Homo sapiens: one gene and its partner. The protein of the gene in region 1 purifies or fractionates together with the protein of each later gene. This does not show direct contact. Each region holds a gene or a part of one and is shown on either strand. Other genes may lie near its edges. The genes, in order: KHDC1 and TTC28.

The links.
Region 2: the proteins of KHDC1 (region 1) and TTC28 purify together in Homo sapiens (affinity purification with mass spectrometry; one large-scale study listed by BioGRID and IntAct). This does not show direct contact.

What each region holds. Positions count from the first base shown.
Region 1 is NC_000006.12:73,240,511-73,243,731, forward strand, and holds the end of KHDC1 (KH homology domain-containing protein 1), read right to left. Parts: intron 2,021-3,221; 5' UTR 2,008-2,020; coding exon 1,896-2,007; intron 1,728-1,895; coding exon 1,545-1,727; intron 1,219-1,544; coding exon 1,019-1,218; 3' UTR 804-1,018; downstream 1-803.
Region 2 is NC_000022.11:28,673,341-28,676,840, forward strand, and holds part of TTC28 (tetratricopeptide repeat protein 28), read right to left. Parts: intron 1-3,500. UniProt on the Homo sapiens protein: During mitosis, may be involved in the condensation of spindle midzone microtubules, leading to the formation of midbody.

The DNA of each region.
Region 1 (3,221 bases):
CAGGCTAATTTTTGTATTCTTGGATGAGACAGGGTTTCACCATGTTACCATGGTCTCCAACACCTGAGCCCTTCTCAGCCTCCCAAAGTGCTAGGATTACAGGCATGAGCCACAGCATTTGACTACTATAACCTGAATTCTTTCGACATTTTCTCTAAGTGTTTTTCTACTGTGAATATGATCTTTTAACCTTTATTTGGTAATTGGCCTTCTGAAAACCATGTAATTAGCAAATCTTGCTGGCTTCAAATTATTTTCCAAATTCAACCATTTCCTAACACTTCAACCACTCCACTCTGGTCCAAGTCACCATCGTCACTCTCCTAGAGTACTGCAATTGCCTCAATATAAGATGCAGGCTGCTGGAGAAGGGGCAAATTTGAAGAGGAAGAGTTCAGCTGAGGACAGGTTTAGCTTGCCATAATCTTGCCTAGACAGATCCAAATATAGACTTGGCAATCGGAGAACGTTCTTCAATGGAGATTCAGGAAGCCTTCGTATTTGATTTAATTCATGGCATGAGGGACTTCAGAATCCATTGCTCCCTGAAAACCACCCCCTCCACCCCCACCCCCACCCCCACCCACAAACTTGGGCAATCAGGGACAAGGCTGGCTACCTCATGTTCACCAGCTTCCCTGGCTGCCTACTTCACCAGGCAGTTGTGGTGGGAACACCTTCCATCTCTGTCTGGACCCTTCCTCCCACCTTTCCATTCTCCCCATTTGTCTGCACTTTAAGGTGCAAGAAAACTCTGGGGTGAATAATTTCATCCTAAGGAAAAAGGACAGTACATCGAAGGCTTTGCATCATAGGTAGCTTATTTTATTGGATTGCTTTGCCAATAACACTTTCTTACATTCAAGAGACTTCCCTCAGACATGTCTAGAAGACCTGAGAGGGACAGGTCCCGGCCACAAGTTCAAACTTTCCTCAGTGTCTATCATGTCTTTCTCACCAAAAGTGAAGCCAAGATTTCTCCTCTCATCCCCACTTCCCAGGGGAGATCAGTCCTTAATTACGGATACAGTGAACTCAAATGGAAACCCGAACAACCAATCACTTGGTAAGGGGAAGGCTGAGGAACGCTAAGACACACGGTTCCACTTATCCTGGGAGCCAAAGACAGGTCTCCAGTGTATGGTGGCACACTAATGGAGGTGACCAGGTCATCGTTGGTCAGAGGCTGGCTTCGGACACGTTCCAGCATCTCCAGGCCTGCAAAATAAGTGCCCAGGGCTAATGAACCAGGGCCCATAACTGGGGCCCATTGGCAGGCCTGGACTCCATCAGGGAGGCTGCAGGGAGGATGTCACCCCAGCCCAGACCTTCCAAGGTAGCCCATTTACACCTCCCAGCTACCTCTCCACCTTAAGCAATCTCATGCCACAAAAAAAGATGAGCACTTTTCTTCCCAATGGACTCTGGGAAGCACTTGGATTCCCCAGCCACACAAGGGATTCTTCAAGAATCCAAGATGCTACACAACTTAGCCAGAACTCCACCACCAAGTCTAAAACCACAGTTCAGCCAAGGATACCTACCTCGAGCATGATGATAGGAGTCCTGGCTCCCCACACAACAAAACATGTGCAGCAGCCACTGCCTTGCCCTGTGTGGTCCGACTACAGTCACACGAGTCTGGCCTGTAGCTGTGAACCAACTCTCCAGCTGAATAAGGGTGTGGCTGTGCACCTCAATGCAGCGAAGGTATGTGTCACCATGCCCTGTGAGCATAAGAGGTGAGAGGAGGTTCTGTCAAGCACCAGCCCTTAGGGAATGGGGAGGTGGCCTTCAGGGTAGGAATATGTGACTGATGAAGGTGGGAGGGGAGAGGAAGAGTGAAAACTGAGAAGACAAGGATGAAGAAGGGGACGTGGGCAAAGGCCACTCACCGAAGATGAGCTCCTCCTGGTCCTCTTCCATGTGAAACACCATTGGTGCATGAAAGTTTTGAGGCAGGGTCCACCACGGCTTCTTGCTGAGAGCACTCGTTCCCATGTCCATGCTCTGCTCCGACCTGATACAGAATAGGGCCAAGTCCAAGCAACTGGTTGGCAAAAGACTTGGAAAAGTGAGGGAGGGCCTAGGCTCTGTCCTTAACATAGGAACCCAACAACCTGCCCCTTGAACTACCTTAGGGTGGGTGTACAATCCCGGTATCTCTTCCCAAGATAATTCATTCCAAGTAATTATCTGTTCTGAGCTTAATCCTTCATGCCAAACTTAATCATCTGATTAGTGCTTGCCTTTCTGATGCCCCGGAATCAAAATTTTTTCTTCATTCTAAATTCAAAGGATTTTGGAGCAGATCTACTGGGTATGAACCAGGACAGGGGTTGAGGGATGGAGGTGCAAGAAGGCTCCAAATGGGCTCCCTAGATTTGCACAGGTGCTGGCAGTCACCCAATGACCAGAGTGTATTCCAACAAGACGGGGTTTGTTTGGTGTGCTGCATCAAGGGAGAGCAAACAACACGGGAAAATACACTTTACACAAACAGAAGAATGTTGTAGGGAGCCAATCGTAGGAGTTGACTGGGTGAGTCTAAGGAGTGTTTAGGGTGTAGCGGCCAGTTTTCTAAAATGGGGCAATTTGGTGATTATCCTGGTAAATTTATCTAGGAAGGGAAGTAAAGAGATTAATGTGGTCTTCATTGTGGAATGTTCTCTCTCTCTGGTTTCAAATATAGTTACAGATGGACTTTTTACACCTTGTTGCATGACAATCACTGAGCAACCTTGACTGGTTAAAATATTTAGCAGGAGATGTTTATGTTTGGTAGGGAAGATTCAACTATGCCTGTCAGCTCCCAACTGTGAGTTCCTAGGTGCTTTTTCACTCTTCAGCCTCAACTTTTGACCAAAGACAAAGTCAGCCATCAGGAATTTCATCTGTGGGGTTCAGATCTACACCATTGTCAGAATCCACTTGTCACAAGTTTATCGGGAGAACCTTCTCTACATCTGCATACAGTTGATCTCTCATGTACATTTTCTTGCAAAATACACACAGTGAATATATAATGACTCTACAGTAGCATTTAAGGCTGAACAAGATGTACTAGTCAAATTCAGGTAAGTCCTGGAAACAAAATAGTTATTAATCCTAGCAACAGGTTGCAAAGACAAAGAACTAGATTTCAAAACCAGGCCATGAAATCATGCCCCAACTCTATCTGAATCTGTTCTAGAGAGACAGGTAGTCTTTTAACCTTGCCA
Region 2 (3,500 bases), on another chromosome or scaffold:
TCCAGCCTGGGCGACAGAGACTCCGTCTCAAAAAAAAAAGTTAACTGCGAATGTTAAATAAGAGAATGCATTATTATTGTATGTAGCTTCCCCCCCTTACCTGGTACGTACTTGGCATTTCTATGCCATAATGGAAGTCAAAAATCACCATGATATTGTTTCAACATACTATGGACGTAGTTCAGAAAATGTTAGGACAAATTTGATATCAACATTCTTTGCACTCACAGAATTGCATAAAGAGTATCACTTTGGTAAAGATGAAAATTACTAAGATTATTGTCCTCTAATGTCAATCATCATAAAATGAATATCAAATTAGCATTGATACTTATATTTTGCTAAAACATGCCTATAGAAAACTGGTTAGTGTTTGTTTTTGGAAGACTATAGATAATACAGTGTGAATATACAAGAAACATGAGATGTTCCAAGCATCATATTTGTATCATACTATGTCTCTAGTTTCTCTTCTTAGAAAATAACAATGCACCCAGCTGCTGAAGAGACACCAAAATAAATGTTCTACCAAGTTTAAGTTCAAACATCAGGCTTCCCGCTAACAGTTTTTAAAATAGCAATAATTTAAAGGAAGAAAGATTGTAACCATGAAATTTAATGAAAAAATATTGTTTCTGCTTTCAGGAAAAAAAGTAGTGAAAAAACAGCACACAAAACAAGAATCATAGAGTAAAAATAAAGAGCTTTCAATTATACTTTTATTATTTTTAATATTTAAAATTCACTGTCAAATATTCTATATAGCAACCTTGATTTCACATGCATTTGCAATACAACTATGTGGTATGAGAGACTTGTCTTCTTTAGTGGTTCCTCAAGCGCTCACAGGGATTTCTTGGGTCGTAGAAAGGTGATGGGGACAGGAAGAGGCTTGGGGTTTCTGTTTGTGGTTTTTTCTTTGTGGTTTTTTTTTTTTTTTTTTTTGGTCTGTGGTTTTGGAGTTTTTGTTTTTCTTGGTTTTTGATTGGGTTTGTCTGTTTTTTGTTTTGTGGCTCACTTTTAACTGGAATTAATTAGCAGAAGAAGATAAAAAACAAATATCAAATCCCTACCACAGGCAAGGCATTGTTCTAAATATATACCTACATCCTCTTTTATTTAACAATTCTTTGGAATGGATATTACTATGCAATTATACATATGAGAACCATAAGATGCGTAAGAGTTAAGACCTGTTGGCTGGAGCAGTGGCTCAAGCCTGTAATTCCAGCACTTTGGGAGGTTGAGGCGGGTGGATCACTTGAGGTCAGGAGTTCAAGACCAGCCTGGCCAACACGGTGAAACCATGTCTCTACTAAAAATACAAAATTAGCTGGGCATAGTGGTGCACATCTGTAATCCCAACTACTTGGGAGGCTGAGGCAGGAGGATCACTTGAACCCAGGAGGCAGAGGTTACAGTGAGCCAAGATCACACCACTGCACTCCAGCCTGGGCGATGGCGAGACTCTGTCTCCAAAAAAAAAAAAAAAAAAAGGTAAAACATGATCATTGTAAAAATCCCAGCTGTCTTTTTTACAGAAATTGATAAGCTGATCCTAAAATCCATTTGGAAATATAAGGGACCCAAAATAGCCAGTCTTGAAAAAGAACACAGTTAAAGGACTTACACTTAATTTCAAAACCTATTACCAAGCTACAGTAATGAAACAGTGTAGTACTGGCATAAAGACAGAAAGAAATACACATCAAGAGAACAGAACTTAAGAGTCCAGAAATAAAACCTTATATATGTTCAAGTGATTCTCAAAAAAGATGTGAAGACCATCAATAAAGGAAAGGACACTCTTTTCAATATATAGTGCTGGGATAACTTTTTGTATCTATATACAAAATAATAAATTTGGACCACATACCACACACACCTCACACCACACACAAAAATTAAAACAAAATGGATCAACAACCTAAATATAAGGGCTAAAAGCATACAACTCTTAGAAGAAAACATAGGGGTAAATCATAGGGCTAAATCTTCATGACCTTAGATTTGGCAATGGCTTCTTAGACATGAAACCAAAATCATGAGCAACAAAGAAAAAACAGATAAGCTAGACTTCCTCAAAATTAAAAACTTTTTTGGCATCAGAGGACATTATCAAAAGAGTAAACCGGGTGTGGTGGCTCACACCAGTAATCCTAGCACTTTGGGAGGCAGAGGCTGGTGGACCACTTGAGCCCAGGAGTTCCAGACCAGCCTGGGCAACACGGCAAAACTCCATCTCTACAGAAAATACAAAAATTAACCGTGCCTGTAGTCCTACCTGCTCAGGAGGCTCAGGTGGGAGGATCAACTGAGCCCAGGGAGGTCCAGGCTGCAGTGAGCTGTGATCCTACCACTGTACTCCAGCCTGGGCGACAGAGTGAAACCCTGTCACACACACACACACACACACACACACACACACACACACAATGTAAAAAGAGGCATGAGCCTCTTTTATAGCTGCAGTGGCTCACATCTGTAATCCCAACACTTTCTGGGAGGCTGAGGTGAGAGGATCTCTTGAGGCCAGGAGTTCAAGATCAGCCTGGGCAACATAGCGAGACCCCTTATCTACAAAAAATTTTTAAATATTTGCCAGGTGTGGTGGCACGTGCCTGTAGTCTTAAACAATTATCATATGACCCAGATAGTCTATTCCTTAGGTATATACCCAAGGGAAATGAAAATATACATCCACACTAAAATTTGTACACAAATGTTCATAGCAGCATTATTCATAATAGCCGAAAATTGGAAAAAAAAACTCACGTGCCTATCAACAGAGGAACTGATAAAATATGGTATATCCATTCAAAAGATTACTCAGCATTAAAAAAGAATGAAGTGCTGATATACGCTACAGCATGGATAAACCTTGAAAACACTGTGCCACGTGAAATAAGTCAATCACAAAAGACCATATGTAGTAAGATTTCATTCTGTGAAACCTCCAGAAGAGCTAAACTCAGAGACAGAAAGTAGGCTAGTTATTGCCAGGGACTAGGGGAAAAGGCAATAAGGATGACTGCTAATGGGTATGGGATTTCTTGTGGACTGATGAAAATGGTCTGAAAGTATCTAGATACCTGTCTTGTTTGTGTGATTCTGTGAACATATTATAAACCACAAAATTCTGCACTCAAGGGGATTTCATGGTAGGTGAATTTATCTCATTTATCTTTATCTCAATAAAGCTTTTTAAAGACACTTTAAAAAGACATATCTGTATAAGCTACAAAAATAACACACTGAGAGACTAAAATGCCTAATTTTTCCATTTTTCTTCTTCAGCGCAATCTCAAGTCCAAAAGTCTTTCCTTCCTATATATGCATATTTTGTCCAGTGAAACAAGAAACTCTATTTTTTTATTAGAAATAAAAAAAAAAAAAAGCCAGGTGTGGTGGCTCACAGTTGTGCTTCCAGCTACTCAGAAGGCTGAGGCAGAAGGATCACTTGAGGTCAAGACTGGGAGTTCAAGACTAGCTGAGGCAAC